Regions from separate parts of the Homo sapiens genome. Here regions 2, 3 and 4 are each linked to region 1. Evidence: fine-mapped expression QTL. A gene starts in region 1. Each other region holds a variant in brackets. All regions are shown on one strand. Distances are from middle to middle.

Region 1 (7,535 bases):
ATTACATAAATGAAATATATGATCACTTAGGTACTCCCCATTTTAACAGAAATGCTTTCATCATAAGAAATAAGTAAGCACCTAGAGGCATATAGTACATACCACTACTACACTACTACAGCCTTATATGTTTGTCTTTTTACCAAAAAAAAAAAAAAAAAGAAAAGAAAAACAGCACACTTCAAGTGCATATTTACAACACTGCTGAAAGAAAAGGCAATACTATTGGAGAATAGACTTAAATGACTTATTCTAGGGCCCACAGTCACCCAGTGGCTGAGTCAAAGGCCAAAAAACTAGGTCTCATGATTCCCAAGGCAGTGGGCAAAGTAGAGAGACAACCACAGACCTGAGAAACAGACCTGGGTATGAATTCCAGTGCCACTTCTTACTAGTTGTGTGTGTGAACTTGGGACAGCCACTTTACTTTCTGACCTTTGGCTTGCTCATCTATAAAACAGGGATGCTGACTGGGAGCGGTGGCTCACACCTGTAATCCCAGCACTTTGGGAGGCCGAGGCGGGCAGATCACTTGAGGTCAGGAGTTCGAAACCAACCCGGCCAACATGGTGAAACCCCATCTCCACTAAAAATACAAAAATTAACCGGGCAAGGTGGCACACACCTGTAATCCCAGCTACTCGGGAGGCTGAGGCAGGAGAATAGCTTAAACATGAGAGGCGGAGGTTGCAGTGAGCCGAGATCGCACCACTGCACTACAGCCTGGGTGACACAGAGCACTCCGTCTCAAAAAAAAAAAAAAAAAAAAAAAAGGGATGCTAACTACCACCTCACAAAATTCTTGGGAAGACTGCCTAAGATCTATACCACCTAGCATAATTACTGGGTACAGAATAGGCAACTCAACAACATTAGTTCCTTTTCTTGGTCTTAAATTATTTAAGATTAAGAAAACACCTCATAATCAACGAAGGCTAATTAACAATCCGCATTATTAATCACTGGTCAACAATGAACCTGTGTTTGCTGCCTTCTTCATACTCCAACCCATTCCCTTCCCAGCTCACTATTTCCAGCTTTTCAAACTTTAGTTACTATGTTTAGAAAAGTGATTTAATTTTAGAAACCTGGAAAATTCTTCTAGGAGTAAATTCTTCTAGGAGTAAATTGAGCAAAACCTTAATCTGCCCCCAGGGGAATTCTGAGCAAAACAATTATTTCTGACAAAAGAAGAATTTTCTATGGGGGTAATTCAATTTAACCACATGAATACTACCAAAGTTGCAAACAAGGTGACAGAAGGCAATCTGGAACACACCTTCCAGATTCCCCAAAAAGAAATGTCCTCCTAAAATCCAAACCCCTCCCTCCCTAATTTGAGGTAGTCAAATCTTATTAGGTGATCTGAATTCTCCCGGCTCTGACACCAGTCCAGCTCCTTAGGCCAGAACTGCAGCCGTCTGTAAAAGAAATACCCTGAGCAAACCCCACCCCTCAAAACATCCCCAAAAGGCAGGGAGGTCCAGAGAGTATTTTCTCCTCCAACGACAGATAAGGCACCAAGGGCTCAGCAGCGCAATCCTTCTCCCAAGGTCATTCAAGTCAGTGAAGGTGCGACGGTGGAGCTGCAGGCAGTCTGGCCTTCTGGAAATCACACTACAGGGGTTTTGGGGGTGCCTACTCTCTTCCCCTCTCCCACCCGCAAGGGTGAGCACTGGCCTCGGCATTCCCGAAACAAGCCACAACAAGCTCTGCAGTGTTAGGAAAGGGGTTGACGCGATGAAGAAACAGATGCTCCAAAGCAAGATGGTCTTTCTCGGCTCACAGAGGCTCCTCCAAGGTTATGCACAGAAACCGCAGCCACCTCCAAGAGCTCTAAACCGGGCTCCGAAGCCCCAGCGCGGCCGCTGCGGGTCGCCAGGTTCCCTGCAGGCAGGCTCCGCAGCCAGAGGCCACCAGCCCCAGAAACCGCACTTCATTCCTGCGCTCCGGGAAGCCATGGCTCCTTCCCTGCCCGGGCGGCTGGGCGGGGGCCGGGGGTGCGCCGGGAGGCGGGCCCCGCGCTGCGGAAAGTTCACCGCGGCGGGCGGGGGGAGGCCCCGGCCCCGCTCGCCGGCGTCCCCCTGCAGATTCCACCATTAATTAGTCCTAAGGACTGTCTACTGGCAACTTAAACAAAGCGAATGCCTCGAATTCCTTCCCGGCCCAGCGGTCTGGCTGCGAGACCAGCAGAGCGCCCGGGACGCGGGCCGGCGCGGCCGACAGCTGCGGCGGCCGCGGGACCCCTCCCCGCCCGGCCCGCGGCCCGCGCCCCGCGCCCGCAGCTGGCCCCGCACGCCGGCCCGACGCGCTCCCAAACCGCCCTCCTCCTCCTGCTGCTGCAGCTCCCGGGCCCTTCCTGTCTGATCACTTCCTTCCTCCGGTGCCCGCCGGGCCCCGCGCAGCCCCCTCCACGGCCGCCTCGTCGCCCCCCGCCCCTGTCGGCCCGCGCCCCCTCCCCCAACCCCAAACTCTACCCCCGAAACTCTTCGCCGCCCCCTCGAAAATGTCTCCTCCGCGTCTCTGCCCCAAACATTTCTCCTCAGAGTCTCGCTCCCACCAAGAAGTCTCCTCAGAACCTTCCCTCCCCCTCCCGAGGAAAAATCTCCTCAGAGTCTCTTCCTCCAACTCCACAAACATGTGCTGGGTCTCGCCCCAAAAGGTCTCCTCCTGAGCCCTTCCTCCAAAATCCATTCCAACTCTCCCCCAACTCCACACCCCATCTCTCCTCGGCTGCGCCCGCGGTTTCTTCTGCCCCGTGGCCGCGGGTGCCCCGACCTCACCCGGGACCGGCCTCCCAACCCCGCCGCCCTCCCCTCCCCGCGCCGCGCTCCCGCCGCCGCCGCCTCACGGACCCTCACCTCTGCGGCCCCGAACCGCGCTCCCGCCAGCGAAGGGTTCCGCCGCTCAGCTGCCAGCGACCGGCGCCTCCTCTGGCTCCGCGGGACTGACAATGAGGGGCGGGGCCAAATTGTGACGTCAGCGTTCTGGAAGGCGGGGTCTTTGTGATGGGCGGGGTTGTCTGTAGGCCCCGCCCCCTCCGTCCTTTTTTTCCCTTCCCAGGACTTAGACTCCACCAAGTTTTTATTGCCTCCGTAGCTGGGTCCTGTGCTAGGCGCCCTGGGAAATCGAAATGGAAGACAAGACTTCTCGATTTCAGGAGGGACACTTTCGGCCCGCGTGGTGGCTCAAGTCTGTAATCCCAGAACTTTGGGAGGCTGAGGCGGACGGATCGCTTAAACTCAGAAGTTCGAGACCAGCCTGGGCAACATGGCGAAACCCCATCTCTATAAAAAATACAAAAATTAGCCGGGAGTGGTGGCGCCCGCCGGTAAGCTAAAGTAGGAGGATCGCTTGAGCCGAGGGAGGTCGAGGCTGCAGTGAGCCGTGATCGTGCCACTGCACTCCGGCGTGGGTGACAGAGTGAGACCCTGTCTCAAAAGAAAAAGAAAAAAGCGGGACACTCTCAGTAGGGTTGTGAGGATTAAATGAGATAATCAATGGAAAGGTGCTTAGCCTAGAACCTGATATGGAATAATCACTCAACAAATCCTATTTCTATTACTCTGCAAATGCAGAGAAGGAACTCAGCTCAGACTCGGGAGGCATGGGTTCCCGTCCCCCACTGTGCTATTAATTCTTTGTGTGATGCTAGACAAGTACTTTCCCATCTATGTTCCCGATTTTCATCTTCTTTAAAATGGGAAGGGGGAATAACCAGATGATCTCAAAATCCCCTCCCATACTTCTATGACATACTTCCTTTAAGTCTACTATCTAAAAGGCACCTAGTGCCCTGAGAAGCCAGGAGGAAGGCTTCAAAGACAGCCCAAGACCCACACCCAGCATAGTACAGGACACAGCCAGAGACTGCTCTCGCTGCGGATGCCCTCCCACACGCTGGCACGCAGCAGCATTCACAAGCCAGGACACAGATGGGCTGAGGGCTGCTTCCTCTCTGACTACAGCAGCATGGTTGGTCTCTTGAGACATCTCTTGTGTAAGCTCTTTATTGCCTATGGAATAAAGGCCAAAGCCCTGGCCTGGTATGATCACTTCCTACCTTTACACACACACACACACACACACACACACAAAGTTTATCCAAACTTCTCTTAGCACACCCACTGCTTTCCCACATTTGACCCTTTGCTGAAGCTCTTCCCCTGCTGTCTCACCTCCCAGCTTCTCCCAGCCAGAAAGCAATCCTCCCTGTTCTGAATAACCAATAACATTGTGTTTAACCCTCACGTGGGCATGAACACTACAACTTATAAAGAACTGACCTCCCATTTGTTTCTTAGCACTTCCTGGAGGTCAGAACCCACACATGTTTGTGGAGCTCAAGCTCTGATGCCAGAAAACCCTGGGATCATATGTTCTGGGGTCATAATAGCCATCTCTGAGCCTGTCTTCTCATCTATAAAATGGGGATAATAATATAGTCTTGTGGTGTTTGTTTTAAAATTACCTAAGATACTGTATGGAAAACATCAGGCACAGTGTTCCACAAACAATATGAACAATATGATTGTCATTCTTATTTTCTTTTTCTTTCTTTTTTTTTTTTTTTTTTTTTGAGACGAATTTTCTCTCTTGTCGCCCAGGCTGGAGTGCAGTGGCACGATCTCAGTTCACTGCAACCTCTGCCTTCCAGGTTCAAGAGATTCTCCTGCCTCAGCCTCCCAAGTAGCTGGGATTACCGGCACTTGCCACCACACCTGGCTAATTTTTGTATTTTTAGTAGAGACGGTGTTTCACCATGTTGGCCACGCTGGTCTCGAACTCCTGACCTCAGGTGATCCACTCACCTTGGCCTCCGTAAGTGCTAGGATTACAGACGTGAGCCACCACATCAGGCCCCTGTCATTCTTATTTTCAGTAGTATTATATTGACCAGGCGCGGTTGCTCATGCCTGCAATCCCACCACTTTGGGAGGATCACTTGAGTCCAGGGGGATGGATCACTTGAGTCCAGGAGTTTGAGACCAGCCTGGGCAACATGGCAAAACCCCGTCTTTACAAAAAATACTAAAAATTAGCCAGGCCTGGTGGTGCCCGTGCAGTCTCAGCTACTCAGGAGGCTGTGGTGGGAGGATCCCTTGAACCTGGGAGGTGGAGGCTGCAATAAGCCATGATAATGCCACCGCACTACAGCCTGGTGACAGATCGAGACCCTGTCTCAAAAAAAAAAAATATATATATATATATATAATTACTGTATGATTTATATATGTATTTTTATATATAACTACTATAATCAGTATTATTTCTAGTTATTAACACCACACAGCACCTCATAACAATCCACCTAATCATTTCATATGGAAGACTTTAGGGTCTTGAGAAAGGAAGAGGCTTGCTGAAAGTGGCCCTGCAAAGCATTCCCATTGGAATGGAAACCAGCACTCCAGTCTGCAGACCCCAGATGGATTCAGCAGAGTCACATCTGATGATGCCCCAGGGCATCTCTGCCATTCAGCATGCCTCCAAGCTGGGGTCAGCGTGTAGTTCTCTCTGAGAGTTCTTTGCAGCACAGCTGACCCATTTCTGCTTCATGCCTTTCTCCTCTCACCTTCTTTACAGAGACGTGGATCTGTGTTAAACCGCCCTTGGCATCTCTGCAATCCTCTAGGAGAACTGCAATGAGGCACTGGGCATTTCTAGAGCACTGGCCTGTGGAAGGAGGGGAGGAACTTTGGGGTTCTGATTAATTTCCTATGCTGCAGGCAGGCACATGGGTGTCCTGAAATGCCTGGCCCGGTCTTCAAAGGCCTCTAATAAATTATAGCTTATTTTTAGAAAAAATATTCAAAAACACCACTTCCTGTGAAAAGTAATCATGGCTGTAAGATTGCTGGAGGCAAAGGAAGGGCCTTTACTGAGTTGCTCCTAAGGGCTAATGCTGATTCCAAGTACCACAAACCCTTGGAAGGAAGAACCCAGGACATATAAGGGAGGTTCTGAAGAAAGAACTTTCTCCCCAGGACCCATGATCCCAGCAACCACTTATTGATTTATTCATAGCAAAAGCTTTGGCACAGGAAAGATCGGGATTCAAAACCCAGCTCTGCCACTTACTAGTTATGTAATCTTGGGCTTTTAGGTCTCTGCACCTCAGTTTCTCATCTGCAAAATGGAAATAATAATACTACCTTTCTCACACAGTGCCTGTGAGGGTTAAACATGTGAAAGAGCTGAGTTCAGAGCCTGGCACCTAGTTCATGCCAGGATATAGTGGTTGCTGTTACTATTTGAACATGTCCTCATCCTCCCAGCAAGACCTCCATTAGTAAAAGGAAAGGAATAGATTTGTATGATTGGACAATAAAGGTCTCTATTGGGCATTGTTAAGTGAAAAGAGTAAGAGTAAGTTGCCGAATTACAAGTGTAGTAGGATCCTGTAGTTATAGTTTGTAATATATGCTTAGTATATGCATAGAAAAATATGGAGACTATAAAGAACTAAATAGGCCAGGCGCAGTGGCTCACACCTGTAATCCCAGTGCTTTGGGTGGCCAAGGTGGGAAGATTACTTGAGACCAGGAGTTTGAGACCAACCTGGGCAACATAGTGAGACCCCTGTCTTTACAAAAAAAAATTTTTATTTTTTTATTTTTTTTTTTTTAGACAGAGGTCACCCTCTGTCGCTCAGGCTGGAGTGCAGTGGCACGATCTGGGCTCACTGCAATCTTTGCCTCCCAGGTTCAAGCGATTCTCCTGCTTCAGCCTCCCGAGTAGCCGGGATTACAGGAATGATCCACCACACCCGGGTAATTTTTGTATTTTTAGTAGAGATGGGGTTTCACCATGTTGCCCAGGCTGGTCTCGAATGCCTGGGCTCAAGCGATCCTTTAGCTTTGTCCTCCCAAAGTGCTGGGATTGCAGGCGTGAGCCACCATGCCCAGCCAAAATTTTATTTATTTATTTTTATTTTTATTTTTTTTGAGACAGAGTCTCGCTCTGTTGCTCAGGCTAGAGTGCAGTGGTGCGATCTCGGCTCCGCCTCCCGTATTCAAGCAATTCTCCTTCCCCAGCCTGCTGAGTAGCTGGGATTACAGGCCTGCGACACCATGCCCGGCTAATTTTTGTATTTTTAGTAGAGACGGGGTTTCACCATGTTGGTCAGGCTGGTCTCGAACTCCTGACCTCATGATCCGCCCACCTCAGCCTCCCAAAGTGCTAGGATTACAGGTGTGAGCCACCGCCAGGCATGGTGGCTCACACCTGTGGTCCTAGTTACTCAGGAGGCTGAGGAGGGAGGATTGCTTGAGCCCAGGAGTTGGAGGCTACAGTGAGCTATGATCTCTGCACTGCACTCCAGCCTGAGTGACAGAGAAAGACACTGTCTCTAAAAAAATAAATAAATAAAAAAGAGCTAGAGAACCTTCAGTTTTTTTTCTTTTTTTTTTGCTTTGCTGAGTTTCATTTTGTTTTTGTTTTTTCTTTTTTTTTTTTTTTTTTTTTTCAGATAGAGTCTCACTTTGTCACCCAGGCTAAAGTGCAGTGGCATGATCTTGGGTCACTACAACTCC
Region 2 (7,535 bases), 62 kb before region 1:
TTGATTCTTCTTACCAGAAAGTAGGATGCATGAGGTCAGAAGTGTAGTTTTTTGTGTTTGTAATTTTTTTATTGCTGTATTCCCCGCCCCTTGAACAGTGCCTAGTACATAAAGAGTATAATATAGTTGTTTATTGGGAAGGAGGGAGGGAGGAAGAGAGGGAGAGAGGGAGGGAGGGAGGGAGGGAGGGAGGGAGGGAGGGAGGGAGAGAGGGAGAGAGGGAGGGAGGGGGGAAGGAGGGAGGGAGGGGGGGAAGGAGGGAGGGAGTGAACAAGCTAACAAAACAATGCTGTATTCGGGGAATTTAATTCAGCATGGCTGACACCAGAGACACAAGGGGAAGAGCAATTAACTGGTAAGGTCTCTGTGGTAGGTTTGAGGCCCCTGAAATGTCACAGTAAGTTCAGAGGCTGAGGGTGTACTGTTTGAGGAACATTCCCTTATCTCCTTTCCTTCCAAGCCCCCACAACCCACAGCCATTCCGATGGTAAACATCTTTTTTTCTTTTTCTTTTTTTTTTTTTGAGACGGAATCTCGTTCCATCGTCCAGGTTGGAGTGAAGAGGCACGATCTCAGCTCACTGCAACCTTCGTTTGCTGGGTTCAAGGGATTCTCGAGAACTGCCTCAGCCTCCCGAGTAGCTGGGATTACAGGTGTGCGCCACCACGCCCAGCTAATTTTTCTATTTTTAGTAGAGACAGGTTTCACTATGTTGCCAACACTGGTCTTGAACTCCTGACCTCAAGTGATCCACAAGCCTCGGCCTCCCAAAGTGCTGGGATTACAGGTGTGAGCCACCACGCCTGGCCCAATGGTAAACATCTTTTAATGCATCTGTTCTCTGAGGCCTTTTCAAACCATCCTTCCCCGCAAGAGAAATGCACCATCCTAAATTCTGTAGATGCTTCTATCACTATATCCATGATACTTAAAATATCTGTCATCCTCTGCTGGGCTCTGAGAGCAGGGACTGTGTTATCTTCATTTTTCAGTCCTGGGCACTGAATACAGTGACAGGGGCAAGGTAGGAACCTTATAAATGTTTTGTAAATAAATTAATGTAATAGTTTTATTGTATTCTGTACTGGCCAAATTTACATAAAGGGGACTATTTTCAGATCTAGGCACTACATTCTAGGAAAGATGCTTAGCCTTTATGCCAGAGGCTGAAATGCAGGTGCCAAAGAGATCAGGCCAATGATTTAAATGAGTTAAAGGGCCTAGAAGGACTATGGCTAAGAGGGGCTATGCCCTACTTTTATATATAATCTCTTAAATGTAGCCAATGAATTCAGATTTCAAAAAAGAGGAAATAAAAAGAATACCACTGTATAGTCCCTCCAAAACATACATGCCTGCAAGTGGATATGGGAAGCAAATTTGCAACCTGTATTGGACAAAGGGATTAAGTAAGAGAGTAACACAATCAGAACTGCAGTTTTTGAAAGGCCATTCTAGCAGGATAAACTAGGGTGCTATTGTAATAGTCAAGGCAAGAGATGGGATAAGGGCCTGAACCAGGACAGTAGCAATGGGGTAAAAGGGTGGGATGGATGAAAGATGACCTGGTCTGCCCAGTTCTAATAATGAAGTCCAAGATTGCATGAACGAATCTGATAGCCACAGTACCAATTTGTAGGTTCATACTGGCTTTGTTTCCAAATAAACTGTTAAATCTCATTTTTAATAATTGAAATATGGGGCTTAATTCTTTTGCAGGCAACGTGATACAATGATTAAAGTTTACGAACTCTGAAGCCAGGCAGCCTAAGTTCAAACCCTGACTTTATTAGCTACTAGCTGTGTGACCTTGGATAAGTCATTTGAATTCTCTATGCTTCAATACCTATAAGGTTATGGTATGTGTAAATAAGTTAATGCAAGAATTGCTTAGACTAGTACCTGGTCTATAGTAAGTGTCATGTAAGTTTCAGCTTAAATTATTATTTATTATTTTTGGATTTCAACTTCTTAGTTTCAATCCCTTGACTAAATATTCTCTACACTGTCTAGCCTGCAAACATTCGCTATTTAAGTCTCATAGGCATGTCTTTTCTATATCTTCATCCAAATTGATGTTCAAAAACAAAATATAACCAAAATCATTAAAAACACCTCCTATAGATTAACACTGATCTATTACAATTCCTGAGTGCAACTATTCAAGAAGCTCCAAAGCCAGGTAAAATTTTTTTTTTTGTCTTGGGATCACATGAGAAAACATTAAATACCTAATGTTAGCACTTAAGACACATTACCTTTGTAGCACATTCCAATCCTCCAGCGACCTAGGAATCTTTCCAAAAATGAAATGCTCTGATATATATATCAAACTGCTATATGGTAATTATCTCTGGATAATGTGCTTTTTTTCTGTTTTTGCTTATGTCTATTCTCTAATATTTTTATACTGAACTTGTACCGATCGTTTAAATAAAATCATGGCAAGGCTTAAAGAAAAAAAAGAATTGTTATCAGCTAGCATGATTTATTCTTAGTGAACACAAGCTGGCTTCTAGGGATCACTGTTCTCATTCTTTGATCAATCAATTTTAGAATTTTACCAGAGATCACTGTCAAGTTTCCAATGACATCCTCAAACCCCTGTGACCCAGACGTTAACTCCAAATAAATCAAACACCTCTCAAATGGGCACAGTGGCTCATGCCTATAATCCTAGCGCACTTTGGGAGGCTGAGGCAGGCAGACAGCTTGAGCCCAGGAGTTCAAGACCAGCCTCGGCAACATGGTGAAACCCTTTCTCTACAAAAAATACAAAATTTAGCTGGGAGTGGTGGCATGCACCTGTAGTCCCAGCTTCTCAGGAGGCTAAGGTGGGAGGATCAACTGAGCCTGGGAGGTCGAAGCTACAATGAGCTGAGATCACACCACTATACTCCAGCCTGTGTGACAGAGTGAGACCCTGTCTCAAAAAACAAAACCAAAAATTTAAATTAAAAAAAAATCAAACAGGTCTATGGGGAGAATTAGAATTTGAGAGCCTTCAAAGTATGTCTAGAAGCCATTGCTTTCTGGTTAGCCACCACTACCACCCAGGTCCAACCTACCATCATCCCTGCCCTGGACTACTGATTACTGCAAAAGCTTCCTAACTTGTCTCCCTGCTCCCATCAGTGTCCATCCTTCCCCACCCTCCACAGTCTGTTCTCCCACAACAACCAGAGTAGGCCTTTTAAAACATCAGTCAGATCAAGTCACTCCTCTGCTCTAAGCTCTTTAGTGCACCTCACTTAGAATACAATGCACTCCAAAGGTGTCACATGGCTGTAAGGCCCTACATGATCTAGGTCCCATCACTCATCTGCTGCTCCTTCCCTACTACTCCAATCCAGCCACACGGCCTCCTTATGGGTCCTTATACATGACCAGTTACACTCATCCCTCAGAGATTTTATACCTGCTGTTCCCTCTGCCTAGGATGCTTTTCCCCCAGATATCTCCCTAGCTGGACTCCTCACTTCTTTTAGATCTTAGCTTAAAATATCACCTCATCAGAGGCCTTCCTTGATTGCTGTACATAAAGGAGCAATCCCTCAGCTCCCCACCACTATCACCTTACGCTGCTTTTTTGTCTTCTTAGCATGTACTATCTAGTGGATGTTATTTGTCTACTCACCTGTTTATTTATTTATATCTAATTATTCATTTTTATCTGTTTCCACCCATTAGAATATAATCCTTGAGAGAAAGGACTTTTTCTATTTTGTTTAATGCAGTATACTTAGTTCCGATAACTAAAGCGTGTAGTAAGTGGCCATTTTTTGTCATCAGAACATTAGCCCCAGTATATAGCAAAATATTTTATGTGTAATAGGTATGTGTAGGCTGGGTGCAGTGGCTCACACTTATAATCCCAGCACTCTGGGAGGCCAAGGTGGGCAAATCACCTGAGGTCAGGAGTTCAAGACCAGCCTGGCCAACATGGTGAAACCCTGTCTCTACAAAAAATACAAAAATTAGCCCAGGCGTGGTGGCACACACCTGTAATCCCAGCTACTCGGGAGGCTGAGACAGGAGAATCGCTTGAGCCCAGGAGGAGGAGGTTTGCAGAGGCAGTGAGCCAAGATCGCACCAGTGCACTCCAGCCTCGGCAACAGAGCAAGACTACGCCTTGCAAAAAATAAAAAAATACAGGGCAAGAGTTTGCCTTGAATTTTTCCACTCCTTCGAGAAGAGTTCTGTATTATCCCTAACTACACCTATTTCCTCAGAGGGGTTGACATGAGAGCAAGAGGCTTTGTTAAGATTCCTTTCCTATGCCCAGTCACTGCTATGACGAGAACCCATTTCCCACTCATTCTGAGCTACCCTATTGCTCTACTTTCCTAGGGAAGCTTTCTCTAACTATCATCCAGCTATCAGGAGCAACCAAGACCACCAGGTCTCTTGGCCACTGACCGTTCAAGTTCTCACTTCTATCTCTTCTATTTCATTAGTGCTCTCCTCTGCCTTAGCCAACACCAACCAATAAAATATTGGCACATAAAATCCATAAATGGCTAGGAAAAGAACCTAATTGTTGATCAAAAGGTTTTGTATTTTGCTTTGCTTTTCCAAGGTTAAATCAGTCACAGCCTCAACCAAAAAGTAACTTTCTTAAAAGGGAAACATTATAGTGTAATGAAAATAACCCACTAGGGTGGTGGCTCATGCCTGTAATCCCAGCACTTTGGGAGACTAAGGCAGGAGGACTGCTTTAGCCCAGCAGTTTGAGACCAGCCTGGACAATA[C/CAA]AGAGACCCAGTCTCTACAAAAAAATTAGCTGGGCATGGTGGTGCACACCTGTAGTCCCAGTTACTAGGGAGGCTGAGGTGGGAGGATCACCTGAGCCCAGGAAGTCAAGGCTGCAGTGAGCCATGATCACGCCACCGCCCTCCAGCCTGGGCAATGGGAGCGAAACCCAGTCTCAGAAAAAAAGGAAAGAAAATAATGCAGGTTTGAAACCTAGTTCTACTACTTGTGTGAACTTGGAAGAGTTATTTAACCTCTTTAAGCTTGTTTCCTTGTGGTGATGACAACAGTACTTACCTCACAGGGTTGGTAGGGCGATAACATGTCCAACAGGACTGCGCCCGACATAGAGTAAATATTCAATAAATGGTAGCTACTTCTTAAGGGTGGCCTAATTCTTACGGTTGCTAACTTCATGCAAGGATTTTTCACCCTCATCAGGTTGGTTGGTTAAGTACTCAGCATAGTATTTGGTTCATAATAGGCCATCACAAATACTGACTTTCCTCCCCACTTCCAGTAGTGGCAAAATTATAGTGGCTTCAGAAACCACCCAATTCTATTGGTACACCCAGGTTTCACTGTACAACATACTTACCATGTAGGTAATTCAAGCTTTCCGTCAATACTTCCGGCGGCTCTCCCTATGCTTGCTGTTTTGGAAACAGTCACTCACTCTCTTTCAAAGGCAGTTGTCTCTTGACCTGGATAGAATATAAACAGAATGGAAGAGATAGGTAATGCATGAATCATACCAAGACTGAGGTGACCCAGAGGGCTGTCCCAAAGACTTTCACATACAATTCACTGTCAGCAAGGGGCCAAGGTAAGATCTGCATCTAGATCCTGACACTAAAGGAACCTGGCTAAGCTGGCTATGTCTCTCTCAGGAAAGTCAAGAAAGAATTTGGCTGTAGGAGACTTCCCCTTTCCTATAAGATGATATGGTCCTAGGGTAGAACCCACTGTCTTTGCTTAAATTAAAACACCCGAACATTCCTCAACAGTCTAAAAATGTACATGACATCTTACAGCTAGGAAGCATCTCAGAAATCAGCTACAGGTTGAGCATCCCTGATCTGAAAATCCCAAATTCAAAATGCTCCAAAATCTGAAATGTTTTGAGTGCCCACATGACTCCACAAGTGGAAAATTCCATACCTGATCTCATCTGATAGGTCGCAGTCAAAATACAGGCACACAATACTCAGGTTTATTCAATGTCCCCTGGGGAAAAATAAAATTACCTTCAGGCTATATGTATAAGGTGTATAGGAAACATAAACGAATTTCATGTTTAGACTTGGGTCTTATCCCAAGACATGTCACTGTATACATGCAAATATTTTTTTTAAAAATCTGAAATCTAAAACACTTCTGGTCCCAGGGATTTCGGATAAGGGGATACTCAACCTTCAGTTAAATGTCCTTGTTTTACAGAAGGAAACTAAAACTTAGAAAGGGTGAGTCACACAATTATTTAGCAGAAAAGCAAGGATTCTACTAAAAATAAGATGTTCTAGAAGATAGGAAAAAAACATCTGCGGAGTATTTACCAACCCTGAGCACTATGCTTTATGTTTTATATAAGACAATAAGAAGATAATGTTACCTCTACTTTACAGATAAAGAATTTAAGTTTCAAGAAGTGACTTGTCCAAGGTCTTACAGCTTGTTATTAAATGACAGAGTTTAAACTCAAGTCTGTCTGACTTTGAAAGTCCCTTCACCATGCTGGCTCTCATTTTGTTGCCCTCTAGACTCGGTCCTCAAAAGAGCCCTGAACCACCCAATATCAATTAAAACTAAAAATAGAGCTTTTCTTTCTGCAAACTTACCCTCCAGTTTTGAAACAAGCAGGCTTCTACAGGAGAGTTGAAAAGCCTACCATCCCATTGAATCTTACCCCTAAAATTAGAGAAGAGCTACTACAGATGGAAGATCTGGGTCAAACTTCTTGTGTTATCTTACTCTTGAGGAAAATGGAAAGGTAGCTTCTAAGCTAGTGGTAAACCTAAAGCTTTTGTACATGATCTTACAAACTATCCTCCCTTCTTTCATCACAACTGCCTCCCTTACACATCCCTGCAAGCCACCTTGTGACTGCCTTCCAAGACTATTGGTCCCTTTAATCCAACTTCCACACCTCCACCAAAACATGCACACATGCACACATACCTGCACCTGCGCGCATGCATGAACGCGCACACATACACACACACACACACACACACACACACACCCATCCCTGCCTCTATCTTCCCAGAGAGCAAGGCGGCTAGAATTACAATGGACAAATAATGAGAGTTTTTTAAAAACAGCTTAAAAGATGAGGGGAACAGTAGTAACTCAAGCCTCAAGAGAATAAAATTTGAAAAGAATTTTTTTTTGTAGTGATGGGGTCACACTATGTCACCCAGGCTGGTCTGAAACTCGTGACCTCAAGCAATCTTCACACCTTGGCCTCCCAAAGAGAAGAGTTACTGATAGTATCGGCCAGGCACGGTGACTCACGCCTGTAATCCCAGCACTTTGGGCGGCCAAGGCGGGCAGATCACCTGAGGTCAGGAGTTCAAGACAACCCTGGCCAATATGGTGAAACCCCATCTCTACTAAAAATACAAAAATTAGCTGGGCATGGTGACATGTGCCTATAATCCCAGCTACTCAGGAGGCTGAGGCAAGAGAACCTCTTCAAACCAAGAGGCGGAGTTTGTGGTGAGCCCAGATCGCGCCACTGCACTCCAGCCTGGGCGACACAGTGAGACGCTGTCTCAAAAAAAAAA
Region 3 (7,535 bases), 160 kb before region 1:
ATAAAATGAAAGGGGTGAGAAAATGTCTGGACACGTAAGACACTGATAAGCAATCATATTCTTTTTTTTTTTTTTTTTTTTGAGATGAAGTCTCACTCTGTTGCTCAGGCTGGCTGGAGTGCAGTGCAGTGGCATGATCTTGGCTCACTGCAACCTTCACCTCCCAGGTTCAAGCAATTCTCCTGCTTCAGCCTCCTGAGTAGCTGGGACTACAGGCATGTGCCATCACACCTGACTAATTTTTGTATTTTTAGTAGAGACGGAGTTCCACCATGTTGGCCAGGCTGGTCTCGAACTCCTGACTTCAGGTGATCTGCCCACCCCTGCTAGGATTATAGGTGTGAGCCACCACGCCTGGCCTAGGTATTCTTTATTGAGCACTGCTTGTATACTAGCCACTGTGTTAGGTGCTACGGGTGGGGGAGGGATATACAGATGAACAATATTCTGTGCTTGTCTTCAAAGAGCTTATAGTCTAGTTGAAGCATGGGGAGGGACTGTAGTAATGTGTACAAATCAAATCCCAGCAGACTGTGAAACATTCTATTGTAGAACTACACATAAAATGTGGAAACAATGCTAAGGAAAAAGATTCATTATAGCTGGCTTGAGGGGAGCTTCCTAGAGGTGATGGCTTTGGAAGAAGTGAAGAATTGTAACAGCAGAAAGGAGAAAATTAGGGATCACGTGAAGAAACAATGTAAGCTTATGTGGATGCATTTGGGGGATGGCAAGTTCTCTGGTTTGGTTAGAATGCATGAGACTTGCATGAGAGAGACGATTTTAGGTAGAACACCAACCTAACACTAAGTCACACTGAATCAAACAGTGAGATAATGATTTCCTTTCCAGTTTTCATTATGAAGAAAAGTCTCGGCTAGGTGCTTGCTTGTCTTTCAAACGCTAACACTTGCTGATCTCACTTTTTAACACAGAACACCGGCTCAGATCTGTCAGTGGGCAACCGAGCTCTGGTTGAAATGCAGTAACACGAGCCGGGCGTGGTGGCTTATGCCTGTAATCCCAGCACTTTGGGAGGCCAAAGCAGATGGATCACCTGAGGTCAGGAGTTTGAGATCAGCCTGGCCAACATGGTGAAACCCTGTCTCTACTAAAAATACAAAAATGAGCCACACATGGTGGCGGGTGCCTGTAATCCCAGCTACTTGGAAGGATGAGACTGGAGAATCACTTGAACCTGGGAGGTGGAAGTTGCAGTGACCCAAGATCGTGCCACTGCACTCCAGTCTGGGTGACAAGAGCGAAACTCTGTCTCAAAAAAAAAAAAAAAAAAAAGAATGAGCAATGGACATGGTCAGAGCCAGGCTTGGCAGGGCTGGCTTCGGCCTCTGGGTACAGGATGAGAGGGGAAACTAGGGGCTAGGGCAGGAGTGGGGAGACTCAGAGTGAACAGCACAGGGCCAGGGAGGAACCAGGGTAGAACCAACTGAAATAGAAGACTCTAGAAAGGGATGGTTCTAGAGCCCCATCAGGCCGTGTCACTACGTGCTACCTGGTAGACCTGGTGTGTACAGATTTCTTTTCCAGAGGCAATCTTTCAGCCTCTGATCCTCTTCCTGGCTCCTAGGCACCTTTCTGTTATGACTTACTATGAACATTCAATAGGCTGTGACTGGGTTTTACTGAGGTAAAAGGTAACATCGGCAGAGGCCAGCCCGCCTCGGCCTCATTAGCTGGGGGAACTCGAAGTACAGTCAGACAGGGTGGGGCAAATTGACTCATGCCTCCTCATTCTGTGTTTTTTCATGGGAAAATTCCGATGTCTGCTTGACCGCCCGTGGTGATTCATTTTATTCCATATGATGAACATCTGATTTTCTAGGACCTTCATCTTCATTTCACTGAACAACAGCCGTTGGAGGATCTCGTCCTGGAGGGCAAAGCAGGCATGCGTTCTATTGACTTCTTTTGTGTTCACGGCCTTGCTGTTCTTGGAGTCGTTTTCAGAAGTCTTTGGTTTCTCTTCCTCCTTTTAAGCTCCCCAGCACCAGGAAAAGGGGAAAGTTGGTTAATAATGATAATCCCTTCCTTGCTTGAACACCTGCTCTGTGCCAGGTGGTTTACAAACATTATCTTAACAGAGTCTCACAACTGCCTGCAAGGGGAGCATCATTGCCTCATTTTGTGGAGACTTGGGACCCAGTAACGGGAAGTCACTTTCTTTTTTTTTTTTTTTTTGAGACTGAGTTTCACTCTTGTTGCCCAGGCTGGAGTGCAATGGTGTGATCTCGGCTCACTGCAACCTCCACCTCCCGGGTTCAAACGATTCTTCTGCCTCAGCCTCCAGAGTAGCTGGGATTACAGGCACGTGCCACCACACCCAGCTAACTTTTTGTATTAGTAGAAATTTTTGTATTTGTATTTGTAATTATTAATAGAGGCAGGGTTTCACCATGTTGACCAGGCTGGTCTCGAACTCCCGACCTCAGGTGATCTGCCCGCCTTGGCCTCCCAAGGTGCTGGGATTACAGGCGTGAGCCACCAGGCCCAGCTTGGGAGGTCACTTTCTCAGCATCATACAGCCTCAAATTCCCGAGTCCTCCACTTGCCTTTGGTTCATAGGAATGCATGAGATGGCCCGCTAATCTGCCAGTCACAGTGGACATAAAGCCCTTAGCCTAAATATATCTATCTCCAGAGCCCGTTTTTCCAACATGCCTCTCTGAGCATTTTGTCAGGCTCAGTACGATCTCAAACTGCGAAGTCTCAATGGTCTCATGACATGCTTTTATCTCTATGATCCTCATCTCTCCCTCCCCTGGTTAATAACACTTATTTTTTTTTTCTTTTTGGATTCAGCTACAAACTAATGGTCTTTAAAAATGTTTAAAAATTAAGCCAGGTGTGGTGGCTCATGGCTGTAATCCCAGCACCTTCGAAGGCCGAGGCAGGAGGATCGCTTGAGCCCAGGAGTTTGAAACCAGCCTGGGAAACATGGTAAAATCCCGTCTCCACAAAAACTAGAAAAAATTAGCCCTGTGCACACCTGTAGTCCCAGCTACTTGGGAGGCTGAGGTGGAAGGATCACCTGATCCCAGGGAGGTCGAGGCTGCAGTGAGCCATGGTTGTGCCACTGCATCCAGCCTGGGCCACAGAGCGAGACCCTGTCTCAAAAAACTAAATACATAAAAAAAAAAAAAGGTTAACTGAAAAAATTCAACATATCAGGCATGCAAAAAGGTAAATAATACAACAAATACTCATATTCCCATATCAACTTAAGAAATAAAATATCATAAATATAACTAAAGTTCCCTGTGGACTCTCACACCCACAGCATCCTCCTCCCTCCCTGAATATCATCACCTTAACTGTAATCCTGCATTTAAAATTTATTTTTCCATGCATTTCTTTATAAAGTAGTTCTCAATGGGAGGCATTCTGCCTTCCCCAGGGGACATTTGGCAATATCTGGAAATACTTTGGATTGTCATGAAATGGCAGGTGTGCTACTTGGCATCTCATGGGTAGGGGCCGGGGTGGC[C/T]GCTAAGCTAACAATGCACAGGTGACAGGTGAGCCTCCCACAATGGAGAATTATCTGGCCCAATATGTCAATAGTGCCAAGGTTGAGGCATCCTGCCTTAAAATACTTTCACTGCACATACACATCCATAAATAAGATAGGCTATTGTTTTGCCTTTTTTTTTTTTTTTTTTTTGAGACAGAGTCTCACTCTGTCATCCAGGCTGTAGTACAGTGGCATGCTCACTGCAGCCTCAACTTCTCGGGCTCAGGTGATTCTCCCACCTCAGTCTCCTGAGTAGCTGAGACTACAGGCACGCACCACCATGCCTGGCTCATTTTTGTATTTTTTTTAGAGATGGGGTTTCCTCATGTTGCCTGGGCTATTCTCAAACTCCTGGCCTCAAGTGGTCGTTGACCTGCCTCGGCATCCTAAAGTGCAGGGATTATAGCTGTGAGCCACTGCGCCAGGCTGTTTTGCTTTTTATTTTTGTTTTTAGATGGAAGCTTGCTCTGTTGCCCAGGCTGGAGTGCAGTGGCATGATCTCAGCTCACTGCAACCTCAGTCCCCTGGGTTCAGGTGATTCTCCTGCCTCAGCCTCCTGAGTAGCTGGTATTACAGGTGTGTGTCACCACACCCAGCTAATTTTTGTATTTTTAGTAGAGACGAGGTGTTACCATGTTGGCCAGGCTGATCTTGAACTCCTGACTTCAAGTGATCCACCTGCCTCGGCCTCCCAAAGTGCTGGGATTGCAGGCGTGAGCCACTGCGCCCAGCCTAGCATGTTTTTTAACATTAAATGAAAGATGTCATAATCTATGTACATTTCTGCTGTCTTCATTATTCTATTTTAGATACGTATCTATGTTCGTCCATGTTAATTTTTTTTATTTTTTTCACATTAAAGTAGTTGTTACTCTTGCCAAAGCATGTTGACATCAAACATGAAATAGGAGAGTCTGGGGTGGTCCTGATTTAACAGCTGAGGTGAGGCAACTGAGGCCTCGTGGAGGGAAGTGATTTACCCAGCACCACCTAAGAGGAAGCTGTAGAGTGGTGGTTTAGACCAGTCTTGGATTCCCCAGTCTTGCCCCATTATTTCGACACCTACCCTGTTCCCTACCCACCTAATCTAGCTGCAAATATCCCCTATCCCTGAGCTGAAGCCAAGCCCCATCTTGTGCTCACCTGCTGGGGCTCTGGGAGGGTGAGCTTGTGTTCATACTTGACCAACCAGTTGCTAAGCAACAGCAGAAGGAATAGGAACCCAAACAAGGCTGGCTTATAGCTCATCAGCCAAGCTGCCACTGCTCCTATGGTGCCTGCGGAGGCAAGTATCCCATGGAGACTCCTAAAGAGAAATATCAGTTCTGCCAGCATTATGGCGTGGAGGCACACAGGCCCCAGGACCCTGCCTCAGGCCCCTCCATGACAAGAGTCACGGCCACCCACTCCTCTGAGTCATAGCCAGCTCCCTCCCCCCACCCAGCTGCCGCATAACAATAATAATAACTCCTCCTTTGTCTGAAGCACCCACTATGTGCCAGACTCTTTGACAGGCAGTTTGAAAGCATTATCTCATGATGTCCTCACAATAGCCAGGTGATGTAGGCCTCCTCATTCATTCACCAGTACTTCTGGGCCTCGCTACTAGCAAAAAAAATGGCCAATACAGAGCCCCTACCATCATAGGGGCAAAGAAAAGTTATCCAAACTTAGACATAACTGCTTTCACAGTTATACTAGCCCATCTATTGGTCACCTGATACTTTAGGGGAAGGTAACTTTGTTTAATATAATATGTAATATTGATTAGGTTTTGGACTCTGTATAGTTAGACATTAATTTTTTATTTATTATTATTTTATTTTATTTTTGAGACAAGGTCTCACTGTGTTGCCCAGGTTGGAGTGCAGTGGTGTGATTGTGGCTCACTGAAGCCTCCAACTCCTGGGCTCAAGTGATCCTCCTGCCTCAGCCTCCTGAGTAGCTAAGACTACAGGCATGTGCCACTATGCCCAGCTAATTAAAAAAAAAAATTATTTTTTTAGAGACAAGGTCTTGCTATATTGCCCAGGCTGGTCTCAAACTCCTAGCCTCAAGCAATTCTCCCTCCTGGAGACATTAACTTTTATTATTTTATTTTATTTATTTATTTTCTTTTTTGAGACAGACTCTCACTCTGCTGCCCAGGCTGGAGTGCACTGGTACCATCTTGGCTCCCTGCAACCTCTGCCTCCCAGGTTCAAGCGATTTTCCTGCCTTAGCCTCCCAAGTAGTTGGGATTACAGGCACGCACCACCACACCCACCTAATTTTTGTATTTTTAGTGGAGACAGGGTTTCACCATGTTGGTCAGGCTGGTCTCGAACTCCTGACCTCAAATGATCTGCCCACCTCGGCCTCCCAAAGTGCTGGGATTACAGGTGTGAGTCCCCGTGCCCAGTGAAGACATCAGCTTTTAAAAAATGCTAGCCAGGCACGGTGGCTCACGCCTGTAATCCCAGCACTTTGGGAGGCTGAGGCGGGTGGACCACCCCAGACCAGACTGGCCAACATGGTGAAACCCCGTCTCTACCAAAAATACAAAAATTAGCCAGGCGTGGTTGCGGGCGCCTGTCATCTCAGCTACTCGGGAGGCTGAGGCAGGAGAATTGCTGGAACCCAGGAGGCAGAGGTTGCAGTGAGCCGAGATCGCGCCACTGCACTCCAGCCTGGGCGACAACAGTAAGACTCCTTCTCAAAAAAAAAAAAAAAAAAAAAAAAAAAAAAAAGCATACATTGCTATAGTAATTCCACTTTTGGGTATTCCCAAAGAATTGAAAGCAGAGTCTTGAAGAGATATTTGTAGACCAATGTTCACAGCAGCATTATTCACAATAGCCAAAATGTGGAAGTAACCCAAGTGTCCATCCACAGATGAATGGATAATAAAATGTTATATACACGCAATATTACCAGCCTTAAAAAGGAAGGAAATTCTAACATGTTACAACATAGATGAACCTTGAGGACATTAAGCTAAGTGAAATAAGTCAGTCACAAAAAAAAAACAAATACCGTATGATTCCACTTACATGAGCTATCTACAATAGTCAAATTCATAGAGGCAAAGAGTAGAATGGTGGCTGCCAGGGTCTGGAAGGAGGGGCAAATGTAGTCATTGTTTAATGTATACAGAATTTTGCAAGATGAAAATAATTCTGGAGATTGTTTATGCAACAATGTGAATGCATCTAACACTACTAAACAGTATACTCAAAATGGTTAGGATCATAAATTTTATGTTATGTGTATTTTATCACAATAAAAACATCTGATATGAATTAGTTATTTCTGGGGAAAAAACGGGTAAGTGCCACCACATCTGGCTAATTTTTGTATTTTTAGTAGAGACGGGGTTTCACCATTGTTGGCCAGGCTGGTCTCCTATTCCTGAACTCAGGTGATCCACCCGCCTCGGCCACCCAAAGTGCTGGGATTACAGGCATGAGCCACCACACCCGGCCAGGAATTCTTTATGTAAAAATATCAGTTTTAGTGGCTGTGATATTCCAATATAGAATCATGCCTTGCTAGGACCATGCCTCACTGAACGATGGGATACATTCTGAGAAAAGCGCCATTAGGCAATTTCATTGTTGTGTGAACATCATAGAGCATACTTAACACAAACCTAAATGGTATAGCCTACTACACACCTAGGCTATATGGTATAGTGTATTGTTAATAGGCTACAAACCTGTATGGCATGTTACTGTACTGAATACTGTAGCAATTCTGTCTAAACATAGAAAAGGTAGAAAAGGTATGGTAAAAATGTGTTATATAATTTTATGGGAACACTATCTCATATGCAGTCTGTTGTTGATGGAAACATTGTTATGCGGTGTATGATTGTATCAAATTGGTTACCACTTGTTGGGGCTTTTTAAAATTTTTATTGTTTTAGAGACAGGGTCTTGCTCTGTTGCCCAGGCTGGAGTGCAGTGGCGTGACCATAGCTCACTGTAGCCTTAAACTCCTGGGCTCAAGCAATCCTTCCACCTCG
Region 4 (7,535 bases), 170 kb before region 1:
GACAGCTAGTGTGGGAGCAGTTTCTCAAGCTGCTTTCAAGGAATGGAAAGAGGAGTGGGGAAAGGATTTAGGATCTATGGGGTCAGCTAGTTTTCTATTTGTGAGTTTATATAATGGTTTTGTTAGGATGGCAAAACCAGGTATCCAAACGCAAAAGTATCCAACCATGCCCAGCAAGGAAAGGAGTTGTTGCTTTGTAGAAGGGGTTGGGGTTTGAGAGATCAGCCAGACACAATTGGCAGGGAGAGCATGCGTGTTTTCATGAAGAATTATGCTGAGGTAGGTAATGGATGGAGAAGAAATTTGAGCTTTGGAGGGGAATACCCGATATCCCTTGGAGAATAAATGTTGAAGGAGCAGGAGGGTGTCTTGTTGAGAAGATTCAAAGGAAGGGCTACAAAGTAGAAGGTCATCAATATATTGAATAAGGTGAGAAGCAGAGTGGTGGAAAGAAAGTAAACCATGAGAAAGAGCTTGGCTGAAGTAATGAGGGCTGTCCCTGAAGCCTTGTGGAAATACAGCCCAGGTAAGTTGCTGAGAATGATTGGTGTCAGGGTCAGTCCAAGTAAAAGCAAAGAGAGGCGGGATGAAGGGTGCAAAGGAATAGTAAAGAAAGCATCTTTGAGATCCAGAACCGAATAATGGGTTGTGAAGGGAGGTATTGAAAATAGGAGAGTATATGGGTTTGGCACCATGGGGTGGATAGGCAAGACAATTTGGTTGATAAGGCACAGATCCTGAACTAACCTGTAAGACTTGTCTGGTTTTTGGACAGGTATAATGGGGGAATTGGAAGGAGAGTTTATAGGCTTTAGAAGCCCATGCTGTAGCAGGTGAGTGATAACAGGCTTTAGTCCCCTTAAAGCCTGTCGTGGGATGGGATGCTGGCACTGAGTGGAGTAAAGTTGATTAGGTTTTATTGGGATAGTAATGGGCATGTGATCGGTTGCCAGGGAGGGAGTAGAGGTGTCCCATACTTGTGGGTTAAGTTGGGGGGGGGATACAAGAGGAAGACACAAAGGAGGCTTTTGGTTGGGGAGAAGGGCAGCAATGAGATGTGGCTATAAGTCCAGGAATAGTCAGGGTAGCGGATAATTTTGTTAAAATGTCTTGACCTAATAAGGGAACTGGGCAGGTGGGGATAACTAAAGAGGAGTGCATAAAAGAATGTTGTCCAAGTTGGCACCAGAGTTGGGGAGTTTTAAGGGGTCTAGCAGCCTGGCCATCAATACCCACAACAGTTATGGAGGCAAGGGAAACAGGCCCTTGAAAAGAAGGTAATGTGGAGTGTGTAGCCTCCATATTGATTAAGAAGGGGACGGACTTACCCTCCACTGTAAGGGTTACCCAAAGCATCTGTGATGGTCTAGGAGGCTTCTGAGGCAATCAGGCAGTGTCACTCTTCAGCCACTGAGCTGAGGAGATCTGGGAAGGAGTCAGTCCGAGAGCCTTGGGCTAGAGTTCCAGGGGCTACAGGAGTGGCTGCTGGGCAAGTTGGACAGTCTGATTTCTAGTGGGGTCCTGCACAGATGGGACACGGCTTAGGAGGAATCCCGGGCTGCGGGCATTCCTTGGCCTGGTGGCCAGATTTCTGGCACTTGAAGCAAGATCCTGGGGGAGGAGGTCCTGGAGGAACGCCTGGCCACTGCGGTTTAGGTGTTTTGAAGTTCTTGTGTGCTGGAGATGTGGCTGGGGTTTCTCTCACAGCGGAGGCAAGTAATTGCAACTCAGAAATAGGTTGCCACTTGGCTGCCTCTTCTCTATTACTGCAGACCTTGAAGGTGAGGTTAATTAAGTCCTGTTGTGGGGTTTGAGGGCCAGAATTTAATTTTTGGAGCTTTTTCTAATGTCAGGAGTGGACTGAGTGATAAAATGCATATTGAGAATTAGTCAGCCTTCTAGCCCCTCTGTGTCTAGGGCAGTAAGGCATCTAAGGGTTGTTGCCAAATGGGCCATGAACTGGGCTGGGTTTTCATATTTGATTAAAAAAAGCCTAAACACTAACTGATTTGGGAGAGGTCGGATGAAGAAAAAGGAGCATTAACCTTGACTGTGCCTTCAGCTCTAGTCACCTCTCTAAGAGGAAATTGTTGGGCAGGCTGGGGAGGGCTAGTCGCAGAACAAAACTGTAAGCTGGACCGGGTGTGAGGAGAGGAGGTGATAGAAGGATTATAGGGTGGGGGAGCGGAGGCTGAGGAAGAATTGGGACCTCGAAAGGAGCAGCCTGGGAAAGAGGGGAGAGGTCAGATGGGTTCATAGAAAAGGAGGATTCAAAGGACCCACAGCTTGGGGTGGAGACTGAAGGAACAGACAGGAGAAAAAGAAGAAAGATTTGGGATGAGTTGCATTAGGAGCAGAGGCTAGGGAGGGACCGATGTGTAAAAGAATGCCTGGACGTCAGGCACCTCAGACCATTTGCCCATTTTTCGACAAAAATTATCTAGCTCTTGTAGGATGGAGAAACTGAAAGTGCCATTTTCTGGCCATTTAGAGCCATTTTCAAGTTTGTATTGGGGCCTAGCAGTATTGCAGAAGAAAATAAGGCATTTAGGTTTTAGGTCAGTTGTGAGTTGAAGGGGTTTTAAGTTTTTTAGAACACAGGCTAAGGGAGAAGGAGGAATGGAGGGAGGAAGGTTGCCCACAATAAAACGGTAAGTTTAGAGAAAAGAGAGGGTAGAGACACGGAGAGAGGGGGGTGGTACTTCCCGCCCAGAGGAGGTGGTACTTGCCACCCAGGGTAGGTGGTACTTGCCGCCAAGGAGAGGTGGTACTTGCCACCAAGGTGAAGGATCAACGCAGGTGTCCCCGTGGTGATCAGACACCTCTGAAATGTGGGTGAATAATCAGGCAGGCGTCCCCACAGTGATTAAACACCAAGGGAACACTGTCTTCCCGAGTCCGTGACCAGCACCGGAGTTTTGGGTCCACGGATAAAATGTGTCTCTTTTGTCTCTACTAGAGAGGAAAAAGAACTGGAATTGGAAGGACAGGGAGATTGAAGGGTAGTGAGAGAGGCTAGAGAAGAGAGTGAAAAGACCGCTTACCCGACTTGAAATTCATGAGATGTTCCTTGGGTTGGTTGGTCTGAGGACCTGAGGTCGTAGGTGGATCTCCTCACGGAGTGAGGGTGAGGACAGGGGACCAGTCTCCCGAAGCAGTCCTCCTGTCCTGGGTCTTCGGCACCAAGTTTTCACGCACGTCCATGTGAAGAGATCACCAAACAGGCTTTGTGTAAGCAATAAAGCTGTTTATTTCACCTGGGTGCAGGCAGGCTGAGGCCAAAAAATGAGTCAACAAAGGGAGATAGGGGTGGGGCAGTTTTATAGGATTTGGGTAGGTAGTGGACAATTACAGTTAAAAGTGGTTATCTCTTGCGGGCAGGGGTGGGGGTCACCAGGTGCAGGGTGGGGAAATCCTAAGACTCATTGTCCAGGGGAGAAATGTCACAAGGTTGATTTATTAGTTGGGCTGGGGTAGGAAGAAATCACAATGGTGGAATGTCATCTTTTGTGGTTCTTCACTTGCTCCAGGCCATCTGGATGTATACGTGCAGGTCACAGGGGTTATAATGGCTTAGCTTGTGCTCAGAGACCTGACACTAATAAAATGGGACCTTCCCATCTAGGAATAAACCATCCTAGCCATGAAAGATCAGACAAAACCTGAGACCAGGGCAGGTGCGGTGGTTCACTCCTATAATCCCAGCACTTTGGGAGGCTGAGGTGGGTGGATCACTTGAGCCCAGGAGTTCAAGACCAGCCTGAGAAACATAGTAAGACCTTGCCTCTAAAAAATAAAAATAAACCTGAGACCAGAGACTCATTTTCTTCTGAAATGCTTTCTCCAGAAGGTTTCAAAAAGAAAAGGGGGAAAGTGTGAAAGGAAAAATAAATCTCCAAATCCCCAAACCACTAAGCCAAAAGGAAAAGTCAAGCTGGGAACTGTGTTAGGCAAACATGCCTCCCATTCTATTCCTAAATGAGATAGCTACAAAGATTAAAAAGCTACATACCTCCCTCACAATTTACCCACAAGGAAATTCACTGTGGACAAAGAACAGACAGAACTCAAAGTCATCCCTCTGCTCACATGAGACAAATGCATATCTGATTGCTTCCTTTGCCCTATTGTTTCACTAAGCCAGACTAAGGCATAAGTGGTTATTCCCGGAAAGTGTGTATTCAGTGAAAGGGTAATCAGAAACTCAAAAGAATGCAATTGTTTGTTTCTAACCTATGACCTGGAAGCTCCCTCCCTGCTTTGAGTTGTTCCGCTGTTCCACCTTTCTGGACTGAACCAATGTATTATTATTATTATTTTTTTTTTTGAGAACGGAGTCTTGCTCT[G/A]TCACCCAGGCTGGAGTGCAGTGGCACAATCTCAGCTCACTGCAACCTCCACCTCCCAGGTTCAAGCGATTGTCCTGCCTCAGCCTTCTGAGTAGCTGGGATTACAGGTGCCCACCACTACACCCAGCTAATTTTTTTGTATTTTTAGTAGAGACAGGGTTTCACCACAGTGGCCAGGCTGGTTTCAAACTCCTGACCTCAAGTGATCTCCCCACCTTGGCCTCCCAAAGCCAATGTACAACTTATGCATATTGATTGATGTATCATGACTTCCTAACATGTATAAAACCAGGCTGTACCCCGACCACCTTGGGCATACATGTTGTCAGAACTTCCTGAGGCTGTGTCATGAATGCATCCTTAAACTTGGCAAAATAAACTTTCTAAATTGATTGAGACTTGTCTCAGATACTTTTTGGTTTACAAGAGTTGATTAACTAGGATATTTAGTAGAAGAAATCCTTAAGCAGCAAAGTGTTCAGGACGCTGCATGGCTTCTATTAACTGCTTTCAGTAAAGTCCAAGAAGAGAGAAATGATTTAAAGGCGGAACTTATAATTAAAAGGGAAGCAGGCCAGGCACCATGGCTCACACCTGTAATCTCAGCATTTTGGGAGGCCCAGGCAGGCAGCCACCATGAGACTAGGAGTTCGAGACCAGCCCGGCCAATATGGTGAAACCTCATCTCTACTAAAAATACAAAAATTAGCCAGGTGTGGTGGCGGGCACCTGTAATGCCAGCTATTCAGGAGGCTGAGGCGGGAGAATTGCTTCAAACCGGAAGGCAGAGGTTGCAGGGAGCCAAGATTGCGCCATGCACTCCAGCCTGGATGACAAAGCAAGACTCCAACTCTGTCTCAAAAAAAGGGAGTTGGTAAGGGGGAAGCAGAATATAAATATTTGGAAATTTCTCAGGCCTGGCCATGTAAAGAATTAAAAAGTGTTTTTAGGAGAGAACACTAAACCAAGCAAAGGACCATTTGGTAAGATCACTATGGATAGAAGGAAGCCAGATGCTATTCATCAAGACAATGGGAGAATGACCCCAAAGGCATCTCGAAGATCTTCGGGCACTGCCAAATCCATCACAGGCTCAGAGTGCTAGGACTTTGGAGGCAGAACAGTTTTGGAGGAGTTGCCCAGGGGACCCTGTGGGACATCAGGGCTTGCTTTCCAGGACCACCTCCCTGTGTTCTGGTGCAGCACACCAGCCTCTGCTGGTGTGGCTAAAGCAAGTCTAAGTGCAGCTGGGGCCACTGCTCCAGAGGGCATAATCAGTGAGTCTTGGCAGCATCCGTGTGGTGCTGATTCTGCAGGTGTGCAGAGTGCAGGATCTGTGAAGCCATAGCTTCCTCCACCCAGATTTTAAGGGATGCCTCAGAGAGCCTGGGGACTTAGGCAGAGACCTAGAGCCACTACACTACAGAGAGCCGCCCCCCAAACCCAGAGCAATGCCCGGCAGAACTGTGGGGTTGGGACCTCTGCAGAGAGTCCCGATTAGGGCAGTGCCTAGTGGAGCCATAGGAGTGGGAAGACCTCAGAATTGTAGAGCATTAGTGTGCTACTCCAAGCACCCACCTTCGATGTGTGTGACAACTGCAGCTAGCAAAGCCACGGGGGTAGAGTTGCCCAAAGTCTTGGAGGCCCAACCTTCATACCAGTGTGTCTGGGAGGCAGAACATGGACTCAAAGATTATGCAAGCCTTAAGATTTAATGTTGTTTGCACAGTTAAGTTTTGTACTTAGAGGCCAGGTACAGTAGCTCACGCCTGTAATCTCAGCACTTTGGGAGGCCAAGGCAGGCAGATCGTGAGCTCGTGAGTTTGAGACCACCCTGGGCAACGTGGTGAAACCCTGTCTCTACAAAAGATACAAAAAATTAGCCAGGTGTGGTGGTGCGCACCTGTAGTCCCAGCTACTTGGGAGGCTGACGTGGGAGGATGGCTTGAGACAGGGAGGACGAGGTTGCAGTGAGCTGAGATCATACCACTGCACTCCAGCCTGGACGATAGAGCCAGATCTTGTCTCAAAAAAAAAAAAAAAGTTTTGGACTTACTTGGGGCCTGTTACTCCTGTCTTCTTTTCTATTTCTCCCTTTTGGAATGGAAATATCTATCCTATGCCTGCCCCACCACTGTATTTTGCAAGCACATAATTTGTTCGATTTCACAGGTTTACAGCTGGAGGGAAATTTGCCTCAGGGTAATTGTACCTTGAGTCTCACCCGTATCTGATTTAGATGAGATTCCAGACTTTTGAGTTGATGTTAGAATGAGTGAAGACTTTGGGGGCTATCTGGATGGACTAAATATATTTTGCACATGAGAAGGACATAAATTTGGGGGACCAGGGAAAGAATGTTGTGGTCTGAACGTGTCTCCCAAAATACATGTGTTGAAAAAAATCTCCAATGGAATGGTATTGAGAAGTGTGGCCTTTGGGGAGGTATTTAGGTCATGAGGGCTCCGCCCTTATGAATGGGTCAATGCCACTATAAAATGCTTGATAGGGCTGGGCGCAGTGGCTCATGCCTGTAATCCCAGCACTTTCGGAGGCCGAGGCAGGCAGATCACGAGGTCAGGAGATCGAGACCATCCTGGCTAACACGGTGAAACCCCATCTCTACTAAAAATACAAAAAAAAAAAAAAAATAGCGGCCGGGCACGGTGGCTCACGCCTGTAATCCCAGCACTTTGGGAGGCCGAGGCGGGCGGATCACGAGGTCAGGAGATTGAGACCACCCTGGCTAACACGGTGAAACCCCATCTCTACTAAAAATACAAAAAAAAATTAGCCAGGCATAGTGGCGGGCGCCTGTAGTCCGAGCTACTCGGGAGGCTGAGGCAGGAGAATGGCGTGAACCCGGGAGGCGGAGCTTGCAGTAAGCAGAGATCAGGCCACTGCACTCCAGCCTGGGTGACAGAGCGAGACTCCGTCTCAAAAAAAAAAAACAAAAAAAAAAAAAAAAAAAAAATTAGCTGGGCATGGTAGCAGGCGCCTGTAGTCCCAGCTACTTGGGAGGCTGAGACAAGAGAATGGCATGAACCCGGGAGGCAGAGCTTGCAGTGAGCCCAGATTGCGCCAGTGCACTCCAGCCTGGGCGACAGAGCGAGACTCTGCCTCAAAAAAAAAAAATGCTTCATAGAAGGAGTTTGTTCCTTTTTGCCCTTCCACTTATGCCTTATAAGG

Direction of the effects. Alleles are on the strand shown, and positions count from the first base shown. SD is a standard deviation of normalised expression in the study named. Not every link is listed here.
As copies of T replace C in region 3, the expression in skeletal muscle of the gene that starts at base 2,952 in region 1 goes up (large effect, 0.80 SD a copy in FUSION).

The links. PIP is the estimated chance that this variant, and not a neighbour inherited with it, causes the effect.
Region 2: its variant is the best candidate, but not a certain one, in a credible set for the expression of LUZP1 in whole blood (INTERVAL, PIP 0.65).
Region 3: its variant is the best candidate, but not a certain one, in a credible set for the expression of LUZP1 in skeletal muscle (FUSION, PIP 0.52).
Region 4: its variant is the best candidate, but not a certain one, in a credible set for the expression of LUZP1 in whole blood (INTERVAL, PIP 0.80).

What each region holds. Positions count from the first base shown.
Region 1 is chr1:23,165,905-23,173,439 of GRCh38, forward strand. It overlaps LUZP1 (leucine zipper protein 1), which reads right to left and starts at 2,952. Exons shown (of 4, transcript NM_001395462.2): 1 at 2,862-2,952. RefSeq lists enhancers at 1,658-2,189, 2,190-2,721, 3,797-3,846 and silencers at 1,961-2,100, 3,092-3,151.
Region 2 is chr1:23,103,675-23,111,209 of GRCh38, forward strand. It overlaps LUZP1 (leucine zipper protein 1), which reads right to left. Exons shown (of 4, transcript NM_001395462.2): 2 at 5,348-5,453. Among named protein-coding and RNA genes, the nearest start is that of LUZP1, 61 kb to the right of the region's middle. The variant C/CAA (reference allele first, on the strand shown) is at 4,752.
Region 3 is chr1:23,009,211-23,016,745 of GRCh38, forward strand. TEX46 (testis expressed 46) reads right to left here and starts at 6,642. Exons shown (of 3, transcript NM_001242521.2): 1 at 6,562-6,642; 2 at 4,673-4,835; 3 at 1,624-1,891. The coding sequence starts at 6,563. The coding sequence ends at 1,691. RefSeq lists an enhancer at 1,151-2,350. The variant C/T (reference allele first, on the strand shown) is at 3,506.
Region 4 is chr1:23,000,806-23,008,340 of GRCh38, forward strand. No RefSeq gene overlaps it. Among named protein-coding and RNA genes, the nearest start is that of TEX46, 11 kb to the right of the region's middle. The variant G/A (reference allele first, on the strand shown) is at 4,347.